2 linked regions of the Homo sapiens genome follow. The protein of the gene in region 2 purifies or fractionates together with the protein of the main gene of each other region. This does not show direct contact. Each region holds a gene or a part of one and is shown on either strand. Other genes may lie near its edges.

Region 1 (3,500 bases), on a different chromosome or scaffold from region 2:
GTTACCCCAATGTTAACACCAATTCAGTAGTTTTACGGATTCCTTGATAGATATATAAATATACAGGACAAGCAGGGTGGTTTAGCAAAAAGAATATTGCCTTCAGAATCAGAACTGTTCTTCTTTTGGACCCGTTTTGAAGTTGTTTGACCTTGGGCATGTTACTTTAACTTCCTTGGGCCTCAGTCTCCTCATTTGTAATGGGGATAATAATACCTACTGAGCCATGATGAAAAAGATGAAATGGGTTTCAGTCCAGTGCCTGGGACATAAAAGACACTCAGGAAATGGTTATTGGTATCATTTTATTATTGTGTCTTCACTGTGGATGCATCTCTGCCCCTTCCTACTTCGTAAGAAGGATATTAAAGTTCAGATACTTTATTCTTCAGTTGCTTTCAAGTTCAAAGAAAGTACGTATGTGTTACCAGTTCAACTGGGTCTGAGCCTTCCTTGTTCCCACCTGCATTGTTTCCTCATCAGCTCCTTGCTCTCTTCTACCAGCACTTGTTTTATTTTTATCTCTACTCGTTTCTGCTTTTTTCTGTTCCTCATTTTCTTTCAGTTCTGTTTGTGAAACTTCTCACAGCTGAAATCATAGCAGTCTCCTATCAATAAAAAATAGTTGAATGAGGATAGAACTCTTTCGCATGCATGTGTTGCCGAGGGCAAGCTTCTTTCTTGTAGCATCACGGGGAGGCATTGCAGGAGAGAGGGGCAGGTGCACTGGCTTTGCATTAGGAAAGCCCAGTAGCTCTTAGACTTGCTAACCGTGTGACCCAGCCTCAGTAAGCTTTAGTCCCCCCATCTGTAAAATGGGAGCAGTGAGAGTTTCTTGACCACAGTGTTGTTGTGAATGCAGGTCCTCACTTCCTTATATGAAACTCGGGCCATATGCTGTGGATTTCGCAATAGCCCTGGGAGTTCTGAACAGCATCCTATAGTAAAGCACATTAATTATTTTGCAGTCAACTGTATGAATATTCATGCTGGGATAAATAAAGATTATAAATGGGTTTACATCAGTTCAGGTCAAACTTTTCAACCAAATGAGTTCAAGTCTGGTTGGGCTTTGCCACCAAATAAATTATGAATAAATTTTCAGTTCTCAGAGCCTTGTGGCTTTCAAAATTGTGCATAATGGATTCTGAAATTATATCATGTTACAAAAGACATACAAAGCTGTAGCTGGTACAATAAGCTCTCAGTAAATGTTAGTGGTTATCGTTACCATGGCTTCAGAAACTGTATAGTGCAAGTTTGTCCTTATTACTCTCTTCCATTTTTCAAAAAAATAATATTCTCAAGTATATTTTCTTCTCTGCCTTGTCCACTTACTTCTGAAATTGGCTTTTTGTACCCTGCAGCCCTAGAGAATGAAGTGTACTGCAATCCAAAGCAGTCTGTGATCGATCGTTCTGTCAATGGATTAATAAATGGCAATGTGGTGCCTTGCAATGGTGAGATAAGTGGGGATTTCTTGAACAATCCTTTTAAACAGGAAAACGTTCTAGCACGTATGGTTGCATCAAGGATCACAAATTATCCAACTGCATGGGTGGAGGGTAGTTCCCCTGATTCTGACCTTGAGTTTGTAGCCAATACTAAGGCAAGGGTCAAAGAGCTTCAGCAAGAGGCCGAACGCTTGGAAAAGGCTTTCAGAAGTTACCATCGGAGAGTCATTAAAAACTCTGCCAAAAGCCCACTAGCAGCAAAGAGCCCACCATCTCTGCACTTGCTGGAAGCCTTCAAAAACATTACTTCCAGTTCCCCGGAAAGACATATTTTTGGAGAGGACAGAGTTGTCTCTGAGCAGCCTCAAGTGGGCACACTTGAAGAAAGGAATGACGTCGTGGAAGCACTGACAGGCAGTGCAGCCTCGAGGCTCCGCGGGGGCACTTCCTCCAGACGCCTCTCTTCCACACCCCTTCCAAAAGCAAAAAGAAGCCTCGAAAGTGAAATGTATCTGGAAGGTAAGCCACCCGCACAAAGGGTTGCGGGGTGCTCTGGAGTTGGGTAGCCACCCTGCCCACGACACAGGGTTGCCGTGAGGGTCAGCGGGCCAGAGTGGCAAGGTCTAGTGTTTGGCACACAGAGCTGTTTAGAGAGTGATAGTTGCCTTGCCTTTGCTGCCTGTTGGTTTCCTGCATTTTATTATTGCCACTGCAATTTAATTTAGGTGCTTGAATCATTAGTTTTCTGGATCTTATGCATCATAATTGGCTATTTGTGAGGATAACAGTTTATTTTCAAACTAGTAGAGCTCTTTAGAAACCACGTTGGTATCTTCTCCGTGCAATTGGTAATATTCTTGCCTTGGTTCTTTCTGCACCTTAGGTCTGGGCAGATCACACATTGCTTCCCCCAGTCCTTGTCCTGACAGAATGCCCCTACCATCACCCACTGAGTCTAGGCACAGCCTCTCCATCCCTCCTGTCTCCAGCCCTCCGGAGCAGAAAGTGGGGTAAGTATAACGTTCTGATTGATTAGCTTCAGCTGAATAATGTTACTTGCTCTGTCAGCCTTCACTTGTTTTACTGGGATTTTTTTTTTTTGAGATAATTATTATAGATCATGTGGCAGTATAGAATTTGCAATCAGATTGCAAAATGATATGTCATCTTTGAGAATCATCTAAATTACCTGGAGGGAAAAAGATTGCTTTTAGCAAATAAGTGGATAATGCTTATTTGCTAAACTTGATATATGGACCATGCAATCTGGTATTAATAAGCATCTTCCTAGTTCTGTGAATAGATTTGGTTTATTAAGATAAAAAACAAATGTACAAAATCTGAAAGCAAACAAATGGAGGTTATTTATAAAGTTGGAACAATTTTACACATCATTAAAAAGTCATTTTTAAAATATTTTGGCATTGAAATATAAACAGATAAGGTTCTGACCTGCATATCATTGAAATAAATTCAAACGTGGTAGCAGGCTCTGGTGTATGATTGTTGAAACAGGAAGGAGTGGATGTTTTTAGAAACTAGTCCACTGGGTCAGCCAGGCTATGATTTGAGTCATGAGCAGACTCCTACCCATACCTGGGCCCCACAGCAGAGGGAACTGACTCCTTAGCTCCAGGCTCGATCTCGGGCATCTGCATGTTAATGTAGTTCTCTGCCACATGGGCCTGTCGTAGTCCTAAAGCTTTTTTTTTTTTTTTTTTTTTTTGTGATAAGCCAAAAGGAAGGATAAGACACACACATATGCTGAGTTAGGGCGCTTTGCTCACTCAAGGTTGTGGTGTTGCATCTTCATCTGGTTCATGCTGATAGTGTGCAGAATTTTTTTTCAGAAATGTTTTATGGTTATTTCCTAGGAATAGCATTCAGAGTACAACATTATTCTTTATTAACAACTGTAGTACCTACTTCACAGCATGAAATAGTTACAAGGAGTAACTGATTAAACAGGTATTAATTGCTGAGAACAATGCCTAGTGGTGGTGGTGAGGTGGAGCTATTTACAAGACAAAGAGAAAGGGAATTTTG
Region 2 (3,500 bases):
GGACGCTGCCAGCTAAGGTCTCTCATGGCTACAGCTGAAGCCGGAGGTAAGCTGAGCCCCTGCGGCAAACAACAAGGGCATTTAGTGGCGTGATAATTGGCACTGCAAGGAAGGGGTGCTTATCAGCAGAGCTTCAAGGACGTGAGTTCCTTCTGCCTCTGGGCTCTGCCATCCTCAGCATCTCCCCAGAGCTTGATTCTCTTAATGGTTGCAGTCAAGGACACGGGCTTCCTTGTCTGCATCTAGCAGGATGGAGAGAGCAAGAACTCTCCTTCCGACAGTGGCCCTTTAGTCTGATCAAGCCCCCTCAGGGTCTACACTGACCCTCAGCCTAACATCATGGCTGGGTGACGGCCAGGCTGGGCTTACATGAACAGCCTGGGGTGGGAAGCACCGAGTTGTCACTAGCAGTTCCGTTGGGTCAAGCCACAGAGGTGGTGGAGTCTCAGAAGTTTGCCCTGCATGCCAGACAGGCAGCATCCAAACCCATGCATGGTCTTGCATGAATCAGCCCCTGACCTTGTCTCTACTCCCATCTCAACTTCTTCCCAGCCCTCTCCCCGCATTCTGCAGCCACCCTGGCCTTTGCTCAGTGCCTGGCATGTGCCAAGTTCTTTGCTGCCTGGGGCCCTTGCCTGTGCTGTCTTGGCTTCCAGGAATGTGCTCTCCTCTGCTCTTCTGCGGCTGGCTCCCTCAGGTCTCAGATTAAATGTCACCTCCCCAGAGAGACCTCTGAATCTCCTAACTGAAAGAGGCCTCCCTGTTATTTTCTCTCAGGGTGCCATCTTGATGTTCCTTACAGCACTTAACTCAAAGCATAATGGTTTTATTTACTTTTTAAAACATTTGGCCGGGCCCGGTGGTTCACACCTGTAATCCCAGCACTTTGGGAGGCCAAGGTGGGCGACTCACTTGAGGTCAGGAATTCGAGATAAGCTTGGCCAACATGGCGAAACCCGTCTCTACTAAAAATATAAAAATGAGCCGGGTGTGGTGGCGGGTGCCTGTAATCCCAGCTACTCCAGAGGCTGAGACAGAAGAATCGCTTGAACCTGGGAGGTGGAGGTTGCAGTGAGCCGAGATCGCGCCACTGCACTTCAGCCTGGGTGACAAGAGCAAAACTCCATCTAAAAAAAATAATAATAAATTAAAAAGAAAACATTTTTCCCCCACTCCTAAAATATGTGCTCTTGCCATAAGGGCAGGGACCCCACAGGCCTTGTTCCCCACTGTATCTTCATAATTTAGCACATGCCGGAGGCCTGCTAGGTGACTAATAGTGTTTGCTGCTAGGTGACTAATAGTGTTTGCTGCTAGGTGACTAATAAATGACTGAAAGAAATTCACTCAGAAAAGCATGCTAGATTTTTTTTTCTATCTTTTGCATAGTACAGTGTCTAGATGCTATCCAATGAAGTATTGCTTTTTTTTTTTTTTTTTTTTTTTTGAGAAGGAGTCTCGCCCTGTCACCCAGGCTGTAGTGCAGTGGTGCAATCTCGGCTCACTGCAACCTCCGCCTCTTGGGTTCAAGCGATTCTCCTGCCTCAGCCTCCCAAGTAGCTGGGACTATAGGCGCCTGCCACCATGCCCGGCTAATTTTTTTTTTTTGTATTTTTAGTAGAGACGGGGTTTCACCATGTTAGCCAGGATGGTCTCCATCTCCTGACCTCAAGATCCACCTGCCTCAGCCTCCCATAGTGTTGGGATTACAGGCGTGAGCCTTGTACCCGGCCAAAGTATTGCTTTTTTAAAATACTTTTTTGCCAGTACTTTTAATGGCAAAAACCACAGTTACTTTTGCACCAATCTAATATTAACTACCTGGTTAACATTTTCCTCATTTTACTAAAAATAGAGTGTAGGGAGAATAAATAAAGTTACTGGAATGTTCCCCTAGCTGTTATCCAGGGAATCCAAGGTTAGCCATAAGTTGGGTCCCATTTAATTTAAGATATTTGTACCTTCCATGGGGCTTTACAATCTACAAAGGCATGCCTGGCCAGGTGCAGTGGCTCACGCCTGTAATCCCAGCACTTTGGGAGGCTGAGGTGGGAGGATTTATTGTGACCAGGAGCTCGAGACCAGCCTGGTCAACACAGCAAGACCCCATCCCTACTTAAAAACAAAATAGGGCCGGGCGCGGTGGCTCACGCCTGTAATTCCAACCCTTTGGGAGGCCAAGGCTGGTGGATCGCTTGAGCCTAGGAGTTTGAGACCAGCCTGGGCAACATGGCAAAATCCCATCTCTACTACAAACACAAAAATTAGCCAGGTGTGGTGGTGCAGGCCTGTAATCCCAGCTACTCGGGAGGCTGAGGCACGAGAATCACTTGAACCCGGGAGGCAGAGGTTGCAGTGAGCCAAGATCGCACCTCTGCACTCCAGCCTGGGCAACAGAGCAAGACTCCATCTCAAAAAATAAAATTAAGTTAAATTTAAAAGATTTTTAAAAAATAAATAGAAGGGTATGCCTATGCTGGTAACAGCAACTAAAACGCCCATTACCGAATAGGTGTCAGGCACTCTTCCAGTGCTTTTTATAGCTTATTTCACTTGGTCTTTATAACACCTGTAACACACATGATATCCTTATACCCGTTTAACAGATGTGGACGTTGAAGCTCACAGATGTTGGGTAACTTGTTCAAGGTCTCACCACATGGTTCAGCAGACCTGAACCATGGTCTGCTGGTTCTTTGAAAAGCCCATTTCTGACAGAAGGTCTCGGTACTGCTTCCCAGCCTGGAACACCCCCACGCCTGCACACTGCCTGTCACCCCACCCCAGTGCTGATGGTGCTGTGGCCAGGCTGACTCTGAAAGAGTACTGAGGAGGGAGGTGCAGCTGTGTTTTCAACTCTGTGGCAGCCAAGAAAATGGGCCTTTCTCCCTTTTTCTCCCCAGATCATCTACCTCCGGCGGTTCAAGTGCCTGCGGACGCTCAGCCTCTCTAGGAACCCTATCTCTGAGGCAGAGGATTACAAGATGTTCATCTGTGCCTACCTTCCTGACCTCATGTACCTGGACTACCGGCGCATTGATGACCACACAGCAAGTGTCTCCCTCTCAGTCTCCCAGCCCTGTGAGACAGATTCCTCAAGCCCCCAGGTTTCTTGGAAAAGGGGCATTGAAGAGTAGCTTCCCCTGCCCACAACTAGGAGAGAAAGGGCAGCTCCCTCTTCCTAATCCCTTTACCTGACTCTGTCAGAGTGATTCCAGCAGCACCCTTGTAAGTACTGTTTTGTGTGCGTTCCCAGGGGCCAGGCCTCTTCCACACACTGTCCCAGGGCCACCTCACAGCCATCCTGCACTGTCTAGTTTTCCAGATGAAGAAGCTGAGGAGGGCTGGGAGCAGTGGCTCACGCCTGTAATCCCAGCACTTTGAGAGGCTGAGGCGGGAGGATCGCTTGAGCCAAGGAGTTCAAGACCAGCCTGGGCAACATAGGGAGACCCCATCTCTACAGAAACTACCAAAATTAGCCAGGTGTGGTGGCACACACC

What was found. The genes of interacting proteins can lie anywhere in the genome.
Region 1: the proteins of DRC3 (region 2) and OFD1 purify together in Homo sapiens (affinity purification with mass spectrometry; one large-scale study listed by BioGRID and IntAct). This does not show direct contact.

What each region holds. Positions count from the first base shown.
Region 1 is NC_000023.11:13,758,748-13,762,247, forward strand, and holds part of OFD1 (centriole and centriolar satellite protein OFD1), read left to right. Parts: intron 1-1,367; coding exon 1,368-1,973; intron 1,974-2,337; coding exon 2,338-2,464; intron 2,465-3,500. UniProt on the Homo sapiens protein: Component of the centrioles controlling mother and daughter centrioles length. Recruits to the centriole IFT88 and centriole distal appendage-specific proteins including CEP164. Involved in the biogenesis of the cilium, a centriole-associated function.
Region 2 is NC_000017.11:17,989,862-17,993,361, forward strand, and holds part of DRC3 (dynein regulatory complex subunit 3), read left to right. Parts: intron 1-2,903; coding exon 2,904-3,050; coding exon of another isoform or gene 3,051-3,107; intron 3,108-3,147; exon of another isoform or gene 3,148-3,228; intron 3,229-3,500. UniProt on the Homo sapiens protein: Component of the nexin-dynein regulatory complex (N-DRC) a key regulator of ciliary/flagellar motility which maintains the alignment and integrity of the distal axoneme and regulates microtubule sliding in motile axonemes.